Regions from separate parts of the Homo sapiens genome. Here region 1 is linked to region 2. The links come from fine-mapping of genetic effects on gene expression. A gene starts in region 2. The other region holds a variant in brackets. All regions are shown on one strand. Distances are from middle to middle.

Region 1 (5,365 bases), 39 kb before region 2:
ATGAGAAATTATTGCATACTTTGTTGTCGGTTAGACCTGGGGTAAATCCCTGCTGCTGTCATTTATCTGCCGAAGTATTAGACGCATCTGGCTGAGCCTTAATTCATTCATCAAGCATTTATTGAGCTTCTACCATGTTCCAGCCCCGATCCTGGCACGGGGGCCCTGCTGTAAACAAAGCTGTTCTCTGCCCTCAGGAGCTTGCTCTCTGATAGGAGAGACAGGGACTGCAAGCTCAATCCCCACCAGAAGCGCTGTGAAGACAAAACAGGGTGATGTCACAGTGACTGGAGGAGGGGGCACCTTTGAGCAGGGTGGTGGTGGTGGGGCTCTCTGAGGAGGCAATACCATTGGTGTTTAAGAGTCAAATAAATGTTGCTCGTCTAGCTCTTGGTCCAGCACCTGACAGATATTAAGCGCTCAGCAAATCTCATAGTGACCCTAGTTGTCATTTTCATTAGTTTACTGTCCTCGCCACCGGGAGAACATGAGCTGGGGAGGATGCGGGGCAGGCTCGACGTTTCTCCTCTTTGGGCGCACAGCACAGAGCTGGCACACAGCTGATGAACACATGGCACCCGAAACCTCTGCACACAGTAGGGCTTGATAAACCAGCCCACTCTCCATCGGCCTCGCTAGGGAGCATCGTACAGAGCACCCGCCAAATGCTTCCTGGCCTCGGCCCCAGCCCGGCGCCCTGCCCTCGCGTTCCTTGCACACAGTGGGCGCTTAACGCTGCCGGCTCAAGAAATGCCCATTTCTGGGCCCTGCCTCGGCCCATTGCATGGGCCCGTGAACCGAAGCCTAGCTGGGCGGCGACGCGCCGCGAGCTCCCAGTGGGCTGGAGCCGGGAGCCCTGCCGGGGCTGAGCTGGGAAGGCGGGCACGCGCCTCCGCCCCAAGCTTCCGCGCCCAGCTGCGTCCAGCTGCGTCCCAGCCTCCGGCTCGCGGCGGTTGGCTGCGGCTCAGCGACGTCCGATTGGCCTGCGCGGCTCCGGCGCGAGCCCCGATTGGCTGTGACGCGCGGCCGGGCGAGGACCCCGCCCGCGCCGCCGCCGCGCCCGGCGCTGGGCGGTCATTGGGCGGCGTGATCTCGCCGCGGTTCCGCGGCCCTGCCGCCGCCGCCGCCAGCAGAGCGCACCGGGCCGATCGGGCGAGTGGCCATGGCGGGCGCCGAGAACTGGCCGGGCCAGCAGCTGGAGCTGGACGAGGACGAGGCGTCTTGTTGCCGCTGGGGCGCGCAGCACGCCGGGGCCCGCGAGCTGGCTGCGCTCTACTCGCCAGGTAAGACCTCTGGGCCCCCCTCCAGGCCTGCGGTCACCAGCCCCGGCTGCGGACAGCGACCCCAGACTGGAGTCCCAACCTCGGGCCCAGATGCGGAACTCCAGCCCGGGTGTCTAACTTGCAAATAGCAAGTTCGGGGACCCCACCCCAGTGTCCCTTCCGAACCCAAGCCAGAACCTTGGCCCCGGGGTTTCCTGGCTGCAGAGACACTCCCCAGATCAAGAAATTACCATGAGCTCCCTGGGCGACAAACGGAGCTCCCATCGGACCCGCAGATACGGAATCCTAGCCCCGGGGCATTCTCGGTTGTGAAGAGTGCTCCTAGACTTAGAACCCCACCCCCTCATCCCCCCAGGACCCGGTCCAAGCCCAAAGCTGCCCTTCAGCTGTAAGCACTGCCCTCAGGCCCCTAAAAGTCACACCTCATCCTGGGTTCCCCAGATCTGGAATCTACATCCTAGTACCTCCTCTGTGCCCTAGCCCAGGCCCTGGGCTGCAAACAATGACCTCACCTCCCTAACCTGGGAATGTCAGCCCCTCTGCCCAGGGAACCCTAACTCAGGGGCTTCCAGCTGCACGGTACCCCCCACACCCTTCCCCCAAAACCCCATCCTAGTGATAGCTTCAGTGGCTACAGACCGATATCCTCTCCCCAACCCTCCAGTGGTGAGCATCAGTCCTTGCCCCATATTCCTGGATCCCAGGCAGTGAGGGGACTGAATGTACCCCACTGTAAGCTCCCCTGTACATAAGCCCCAACTCTAGCTCTTGCCCCTCCCTCACATCCATGTATTGGCCCCTTCCTTAGGACTTGGGACTGGAACCCCCATATTCCCCAGACCAGATCATAAGTTGGAGTTCACCTCTCCCTCTCTGTCCCTTTCCCTCAGGCCACGGTTTCTCCCTAGCTTCTTCCTGCTTTGCTCACTGTATATGCTCCAGCAAGCACCCCC[C/G]CTACACCCACTTTTGTGACTCCTACGTGAGCCCTAGGAATTTTACTGTTTGGCCTCAGGAGGGCCCTATATCCCCAGGAGTTAAGGAAGTGCCTTTGAGAACTCCTGGTTCAGGTGACTGGGAGGCACCTCTACCTGGGTGTCACCATGGAATGAAGCTTTGTTTGTCAAATATCCTGACATCCTTCCTTTTTCTGTGGGGCAGCCACCAAGCACCACATGCAGCCCTTGCCTGGAGTGGGCCTGGGGTCACTAGCACCTTAGCTTTCTGCCCTCACTGGCCTGGGTTCCATGCCGTCTCTTCCTTAAAAGGCGGCATGGCCACGGACCATTTGCATTTCCTCACTGGGTCCTAGACCACTCCATTCTCTGTATGTGATTTTTCACACCTGACTTGGGCACCTGGTCCATGCCGCTATGGTTTCTTCAGGCCTATACCCAAGACACCCAGCCTATGGACTTAAAACCTCCTGCTCTCCTGGGGGTAGGCCAGGGTTAACATCCTGACTCTGTTATTCAGCTGTATGACCTGGTCCAAGCCACTTTCCGTCTCTGTTTCCCCTTGGTTTCCTTGCAAGTTAAAGTTTATCTGCCCCTTCGTGTTAGGAAGTGGAAATGAGATCGTCCACTGGCATTCAGTAGGCACTCCCTGTTGTTGTGTGGGTTTTTTTGTTGTTTTTTGTTTTGTTTTGTTTTATTTGTTTTGAGATGGAGTCTCACTCTGTTGCCCAGGCTGGAGTGCAGTGGCGTGATCTCGGCTCACTGCAAGCTCCTCCTCCCGGGTTCACGCCATTCTCCTGCCTCAGCCTCCTGAGTAGCTGGGACTACAGGCGCCCGCCACCATGCCCGGCTAATTTTCTGTATTTTCAGTAGAGATGGGGTTTCACTGTGTTAGCCAGGGTGGTCTCGATCTCTTGACCTTGTGATCCGCCCACCTCGGCCTCCCACAGTGCTGGGATTACAGGCGTGAGCCACTGTGCCTGGCGCCTCCCTGTTGTTAACAGTAGTCTGACCTTTGCTGTGGGGGATCCGCCTCACCTCTCTGGTCCTCAAACTCCCCACCTGGGAATTGGGGATAAGGATTCAAGGGCCTCCCTCTTTAGTGTCCAGCTCTGCCTGCTCCTGTGAACCCTACCTACTTTCAGACAGCCCAAATCATTCCCAGGCATTCTGAGCCTCCCCAGGGATTGCTGTTTCCCCACTCCACCACGATCAATTGCATATTTGTCCATTTCTGGTTTCCCCAAGTGCCCTTCACTCTCTGAAGAACAGCCATGCCTGAATCAGAGTCTGCAGACAGCCTGGTGCCCCAAATCTGCAATCAAGGCCCTTTATCTCCTCCAGACCTGGAGGTAGGGGAGGAGACTTGCCAAACTGGTTTCTCCAACTTCCTTTCCACTGGCCTCTCTGCTTCTATCTGCTCACTGTGTGATCTTGGGGAAGTATTTGACCTCTCTGGGCCTGAAAAAGTGAGAGACCAGGCTCAGTGCATATTGAACACCTATGTTCTAGTCCATGTTCTAGGCTCTGGGGGCAGAATGGTGAACAAGACAGAAAAAAATGGAGCTGGCCGGGCGCGGTGGCTCACACCCGTAATCCTAGCACTTTGGGAGGCCGAGGTGGGTGGATCACTTGAGGTCAGGAGTTCGAGACCAGCCTGGCCAACATGGCGAAACCCCGACTCTACTAAAAATACAGAAATTAGCTGGGCATGGTGGCAGGCCCCTGTAATCCCACCTACTCAGGAGGCTGAGGCAGGATAATCTCTTGAACCCAGGAGGCGGAGGTTGTTGCAGTGAGCCAATACCACACCACTGCATTCCAGCCTGGATGACAGAGCGAGACTCTGTCTCAAAAAAAAAGAAAAAGAAAAAAACGGAGCTGGCATTTTAGTAAATAGCCGGGCCATAAACTTGACAAATAACTGTCTCACGTGCCCAGTGGTGGCAAGCGCTGTGGAGCAAATACATAGCAGGAGAGGGGGATCTGAAATGTTGGGGACAGGAATGACATTTTAGGGAGGGGGCAGTGAAGGCTTCCCTGAGCAGGTGACATTCGAAGTGAGGCCTGAAGGGAGGAAGGACTGGAGGGAGGGAGCCTTGAGGATATTTGAAGAAGGGTTGGTCCAGACCAGGGAAACAACAAATGCAGAGACCCTGAGGTGGGAGCTTGCCAGGCATGTTTAGGGAATATGGAGGACACATGTAGGCTGGAGGGAAGAGTAGAAGAAGTTCCTGGGTTCTAGGAGCAGAATGTTTGAGATTACTGGGGCTGGAGGTGGTTTGGCACTGTGACAGTTGACAGCCATAATCATGGCAATCAACATAGCCGAGTGATTGAGCCTCACTGTGCTGGCATTTTCCTCACCTGCTCTCCGTGCATCCCCACTACAACCGTGTGAGCTGTACCTTGATATTAACTGCATTCACAGAGGAGGAGGCTGCAACCCCTCCCAACCCCCACCCCAGGCATGCTCTTCCTAAAGCTCACCCTGATCGGGGTTAGGCCCGCATCTGCCCTCACCTGATGGGAAGGCCAGCAGGACAGGGACTGAACCTATTTGGTTTGATTAAAGTGCTTGGCCCCTCATGAGCACCCAGTCCACTTTTGTTGGAACATTTCCTGAGGCTTAGAAAATGGGAGAGGCTGCCTGAGGTCATACGGCGGGGCACCGGGCAGCAGTAGGGCTAGGCCTGGAACCCGGGACTGGGCCGGGTGGGGGTGCGCTAGGTTCTGTGTTCTTACTCTTCACTATGGAAGTCAGCCAGCCAGGGGTGAGTGTGTGGGAGGTGGGGGCGAGTATTCCGGATCATCAGAACAGCATGTGTGCAGGGCAGGTGGCAGAGAATGGGCCTCTGTGTGTAGGGAGCTGTGAGTAGTTGGACCAGAGCAGCATGGGGCTGAGGGAATGGTGACAGGTGCAGCAGGGAGGCGGCCACAGCCTGATTTCGCAGGCCCCAAGTGTCTGGCCCAGAGGTTGAGCCCTGGTCCTGCAGGACCCAGGAGCCGTTCTGTCCTGTTCTGGGCTGAGTTTCCCAGCAGCAGCCCACCTCATGCCAGATGTCAGGGTTTGTGAAGGGCCTGGCCAGCTTGGCAGGCCAGAGGGTGAGGCGGGTGTCCAGCTTCCCA
Region 2 (5,365 bases):
GCCAGTGCTGGCACTTTGAGAGCTAATTATAGCTGAATTTGATGTGGTTGGAGGAATCGAGGAAGGCTTCCCTGAGGGGATGGTGCTGGATCTGAGAACTGAAGAGTGGGAACAGCACAGGCAAAGCCCCTGAAGTGGGAGAGGGCATGTGTTCCAGGGGGCTTGCAAAGGGCCAGTGTCGCCGCAGAGGTACAGAAAGTCTCAGAGGCGCAGGCTGTGCCAAGGCTATGGTGAGGCAAGTGGGGTACCTAGGGTGCAGATTTTTTTTTTTTTTTTGAGACTGAATCTCTCTCTGTTGCCCAGGCTGGAATGCAATGGTGCAATCTCAGCTCACTGCAACCTCTGCCTCCCGGGTTCGCTCGATTTTCCTGCCTCAGCCTCCCGAGTAGCTGGGATTACAGGTGTGTGCTACCACGCCCCGCTAATTTTTGTATTTTTAGTAGAGACGAGGTTTCACCATGTTGACCAGGCTGGTCTGGAACTCCTGACCTCAGGTGATCTGCCCACCTCGGCCTCCCAAAGTGCTGGGATTACAGGTGTGAGCCACCATGCCCTGCCCTAGGGTGCAGATTTTAAGGAGTCACTCACCTGCAGCGCTGTGCAAGTGCGGAGTCAGGACCTGAGTGAAAGCCCCGTTAAATCTGACCACCCCATCCTCGTCCCTGCCCTGGGTGCAGAGCCTGGTGCACAGGGTGTCCAGGCATCCTGCTTTGCCCTGGAGAGCCCTGGTTTCCACTTGTCCTGGTGAGATTATAATAAGTCCCCTTTTAATCTGATGTGTGTCCTCATTAGGTGATAATTCTATGGTCGCTCAACTTGTAAAGTTTGTATTTTATCCAGAGGGAATGGGGAGCCACTGAAGGCTTTAGCTGGAGGGTGTTTTGAGCAGATGTTGGTCTATATGGAGAATGGGCCATAGGGGAGAGAATGGAAGCTGCTGGGGTCTTCCAAGTGGGAGATAAAGGCAGCTTGCCCTGAGTGGAGAAGTGAACGGAGTGGAGAGATGCAGAGTAGGCACTGCTATCAGACAAAGGTGATGAATTGGATGTGCTGGGTGAGGGCTTCCAGCTTCCTTGTCCCTCTATGTTTAGAGTCCTGGTCCTTCTGCCAGTATTTTGCTCTGTGACCTTAAGCCAGTCCCTTCACCTCTCTCAGCCTCAGTGTCTACATCCATATAAGGGCTTCTCAGACAATTTATAATAAAGGAGGAGTACCTTCTTGGGTTTATTTATTTGCAAAAATATTTCCCAAGGGCCTTTGCACAAGCTGTTCCCTCTACCTCCTCATTGTTACGGTCTCTGCTGAAATATGACCACCTTAGGAGGCCCTTCCTGACCATCCTCTGCTGCTCTTGTCTTGGTTTATCTCTACCCTATCAGAATTATAGTTTCCTGTTTATTTACTTGCTGTCTACGACTAGAATGTAAGTCCCTGAAAGCAGGGATTTGCTTCTTCAGAGATGTCTATCCATCCCCAGCGCCTAGCACAGTGTCTGGTACATAGTAGGTGCTTAATGTTTGTTTGTTTGGTTGAATGAATGAATGAACGAATGAATGAATGAATGAATGAATGAATTGGGTAGATGGTTAGCAAATGCTTTCCCTGCCACCTTAATGCCCCTAAATCATTTAGCTGCACCCACTCCAAGCCTTCTCTGGCCGGGGAGCATCAATCCTAGGAGCCAGATCATCTGACCTGGAGGGTGATGATTCAAAAAATTTGAACCTGGAGGTTAAAATTCTGCCTGTCTCTGCCACTTAACAGCTGAGTTTAGATAAATCGCTTGATCTCTCTCGGCTGCATTTTTCACATTAATTCTGACCTTGCGGAGATGTGGTGAGGATCTAGATAGGAACTAGACAGGAAAAAGCCCCAAGCGAATTCGGCGCTTTTGTTTGAAGCTATATTTTCTTTTTCTTTCACAATCGCGCCTTCCCAAGCCTAGTCACCCCTGCCCTTCTCACTAAGCACATCACAACCTCCCTCGCACCCGATGTGTGGGGACTTGCAGGTTGCTGGGCCCTCGAGCACGCAGATATTTCCTTTCTCTAAAAGGGAAGGAAAAGAGCCTTCCAGGCCACGGGTCGTGCAGGTCTCCGGGGCGGGCGTCAGCGGCGGCGTATGTGCGTGCGCGCGCGCCTGCGCATCAGGGCCGGGGGACGGGTAAGGGGGGGGTGAAGAAGGGGCCGGCCTTCAAGCAAGAGCGACGCAAGATGGCAGCCACCACGGGCTCGGGTGAGCGGGGGCGCCGGGCCCGGCCGGCCGAGGGGGCATGGGCTTGGGCCGGGGGCCGGGGACCCTCAAAGCCTCCTGCAGCGGAGCCAGGGTCCCCGCGCCGCCTCTGTCTGCTGGGCTCCGCGGCAGCCACCGGCGCGGCCTGACCGGGGGAGGAGGAGCAGGCGGTGGCCGGAAGCACGGGCGGGGGGCTGAGGGGCCTGTGGGCGGCGCGGCGAGGCCCTGAGGCTCCCCCGGGAGGCGTGAGGGCCCTCTGTGCTGTCTGGGGGAGCCGGAGTGGGCGAGGAGCGAGCTCCGAGGCACTCCTGAGGATACCGGGGCTGGCGACTCTTAAGGGGCGATCTAGAGGTCCCCTAGAGGAGGCGCCCCACAGCGGATGGAAGTCCCATACTGGGTGCCAGGGGTGCGGCTGAGAGGGGCCTTGGGATGTCTGGAGGGGACATCAGAGAAGCCCTTCAGGCTGGATGGAAGAAACGGGATCCTGAGGGGGTGACTTGAGAGGATCCCCTATCGGTTGAGGGAACGGCTCCGGCGTTAGTTTTAGAGATGGGGTTAGCTGAGGAAATAGCTATGTTGACTAGAAAGGAGGAGCCTTGGAGCAGCTGCTTTTGGGGAGAATGAAGGGGGTCTCCGCATGATAAGTGAGAGGAGGGAAAAGGATTCAGATGCCAGAGGGACCTAATAGCGGTGATAGTGAAATGACCCCATCATTACCAGTCTCCTGTTCGAGGATACAGATGGATTGCTTCAAGTTAGGTTTCAGGGGACAAGGTCCGAGTGGGGCAGTTGGTGGAAGCCTCTGATATTGGATGAGGGAGAACAGATGAATTGGGAGCCCCGAGGATGTCTCTTTGGGAGTGGGGATTCAACTGAGGGAAGCCCCTGAAATGAGGGAGTGGAAAAGGTCGGGTTCCGGAGATGTTTCCTGTAAAGGAGAAAAGTCTCCTCTTTTTGAATTGAGTGAGGGAAGCATATCCTAGAAGTGTCTCTTCTGTGGAGACGCTCACTCTCATCGACTCCTTTAATAATTGGGACAGATATGTGGGTTCAGCTCAGAAGTTCCCCACTGGCTGATGGGAGTAGGGAGGTGAATAGATGAAATGGGAACTCTTGGGTGAGGCTGCACCCTCAGGTGCCTGGCAGTGAAGTTGGCCAAGGAGGTTCTCTCAGATGGGGTGAAAATGGGTTACCTCTCTGATGGAGGAAGCAAACAGGGCCACAGTGTTCCCCACTGTGGGGCTGCAGGGACACCAGCCTGAGTACAGCAATCATTGGCATATTTAAGGCCACAGCAGCGGCAGTGTTGGGAAGGAATTGGTGATCCATGGGAAATAGGGTGAGGGGAATTCTTTATAAATGTTGCTACTCTGCGGTCTCAAGGAGCCATACTTGCCTGATGGTTGGGGTGGGAATAAAAGAAATTGAATGTGGGGGATCTGACTGAAGTGACCCACCACAAGCTGCTGCCTTTTGAGTTTAAAACAGTGGGGTCTTCTTGCAGAATAGCGGAGACCATGAATCCTTTTACTCGATTTTGGTTTCAGCTGGAACAGTGCTGAGTCAATTCATTTACCATGACGCTGCCCCAGGCACTCCCAGAAGAGAGATTCTGAGTCAGGCCAGACTGCTGGGTAAAACTTCTCACCAGAATAACACTCCTACCGGGTCGTAATAAACGAAGGGGCCCAGTGTGCTGGTGGTAGCCAGCAATAAGGTGCTGTTGCAGCTCAGCCCTGCTTGCAGTCACTCGGTTGGCTACCTACAATCTGGGTTAACAGCTGCCCGGTTCTAACTTCTCCAGACCCTGACAGTTAAAAAGTGAGTGCTTCATAAATGGCTATGGTGATCAGATAAAATGTCAGCTGCTGTCTAGTGGAATACAAGAGCACTTGGCATGGTTTAGATAACATAGGACAGGCTTTGAGGTGCCCTAAAATGGACTTCCCAAAATTCTTTTGTCTGTTTATTCAACAGATATTTACTGAGGGCCTATTATGTCCCATCGTGGATAGCAAACAAAATGGACATAGTCTGTATCCTTCGGGAGCTTCCATTCAAGTCAGGGAGAGAAGGCTGTTAAGGAGTAAATAAGACAATTTCAGATAGCAGTAAGTGCTATGGAGGAAATTGTGTGATGTGATAGTGTCTGGAGAGGTGGTCAGGAAAGTGACATTTCAGCTGAGTCAAATAATGGAAAGAGCTAACCCTACAGTGTCACAGGCAGGAGAGAGAGTGGGCTGTTAGTGCAAAGGCCCTGTGGTGGGACTCTGCTTGGCATGTTGAAATAACAGGATAAAAGGCCTTCATGTGCAAGCAAGGCTTGTTAAGGAGATGAGTTGGAGAGACATGGCTTTGGATTTGAGATGGTATGAGGGGAAGCCATCAAACAAGTGTCTGGTATGAAGTAGGCATTCAGTAAATATTTGTTGAATGAATGAATAAGAGTCTTAAAAAGAGGAGTATGATAAGATCTGACCTTCGTCCCTAGGCAGTGAAAAGAGTGCAGGGTGCTAAGAGTAAAGCAGACCTTACTTGGGGTAAACTAAAATGAGTGTACAGGCCTCTCTGCTTTCTAACCCTGAGAAGTCTTCCAGGTGTGGTCAGGGCCCAGAGGCCTTCCTTAGTCAGGTTTAGAGTGAGGCTCTTGATTAATCTGTGCCTCCGGTTGCCAGGAAACAGCTGTGAAGCCTTTGAGTTCCTGTAAGGGCTGAACTTAGTTTTTTATGGTCACTGCTTTCAGCATTTGGCTACACCACCTTCCCACTTCCTTTGGTTCTGCAATGTGTGATATCTACATATGTCTTAGAGGGTGGAACTGTGAAAAGCCCACCACAGATCCTCAGAATCCCCATGTTATGACGGGTGACTTCCTCCTGCCTTGGCCAGGATTGCAGCACATCAAATAGTGGCCCTTGGTTGCCAGGCCCTTCCTCTCACTCAGCAGCCCACGAGCTTCCCTGACATTTAATCAGAAAATGAGTGCCAGAGGGGTAAGCCCTGGTGGGGCATGATTTTAAATTTGCATACATCGGAGTGGCCTCATATGCACATTCAGCTTATAAAAACTTAACCATGTGGGCAGCAGAGATTAGTCTTCCCTTCCATTCAAGAGTCTTCCCCAGAGAGAGCT

What was found. PIP is the estimated chance that this variant, and not a neighbour inherited with it, causes the effect. A credible set is the group of variants that fine-mapping cannot tell apart.
Region 1: its variant is the best candidate, but not a certain one, in a credible set for the expression of UBE2V1 in whole blood (TOPMed, PIP 0.50).

What each region holds. Positions count from the first base shown.
Region 1 is chr20:50,149,435-50,154,799 of GRCh38, reverse strand. It overlaps PEDS1-UBE2V1 (PEDS1-UBE2V1 readthrough), which reads left to right and starts at 1,077. Exons shown (of 8, transcript NM_199203.3): 1 at 1,077-1,283. The coding sequence starts at 1,163. It overlaps PEDS1 (plasmanylethanolamine desaturase 1), which reads left to right and starts at 1,077. Exons shown (of 6, transcript NM_199129.4): 1 at 1,077-1,283. The coding sequence starts at 1,163. RefSeq lists a silencer at 644-1,323. The variant C/G (reference allele first, on the strand shown) is at 2,237.
Region 2 is chr20:50,109,977-50,115,341 of GRCh38, reverse strand. It overlaps UBE2V1 (ubiquitin conjugating enzyme E2 V1), which reads left to right and starts at 2,192. Exons shown (of 4, transcript NM_001032288.3): 1 at 2,192-2,235. The coding sequence starts at 2,214. All of the region lies in intron 5 of PEDS1-UBE2V1 (PEDS1-UBE2V1 readthrough), which reads left to right. RefSeq lists enhancers at 1,273-1,840, 1,845-1,954 and a silencer at 2,125-2,664.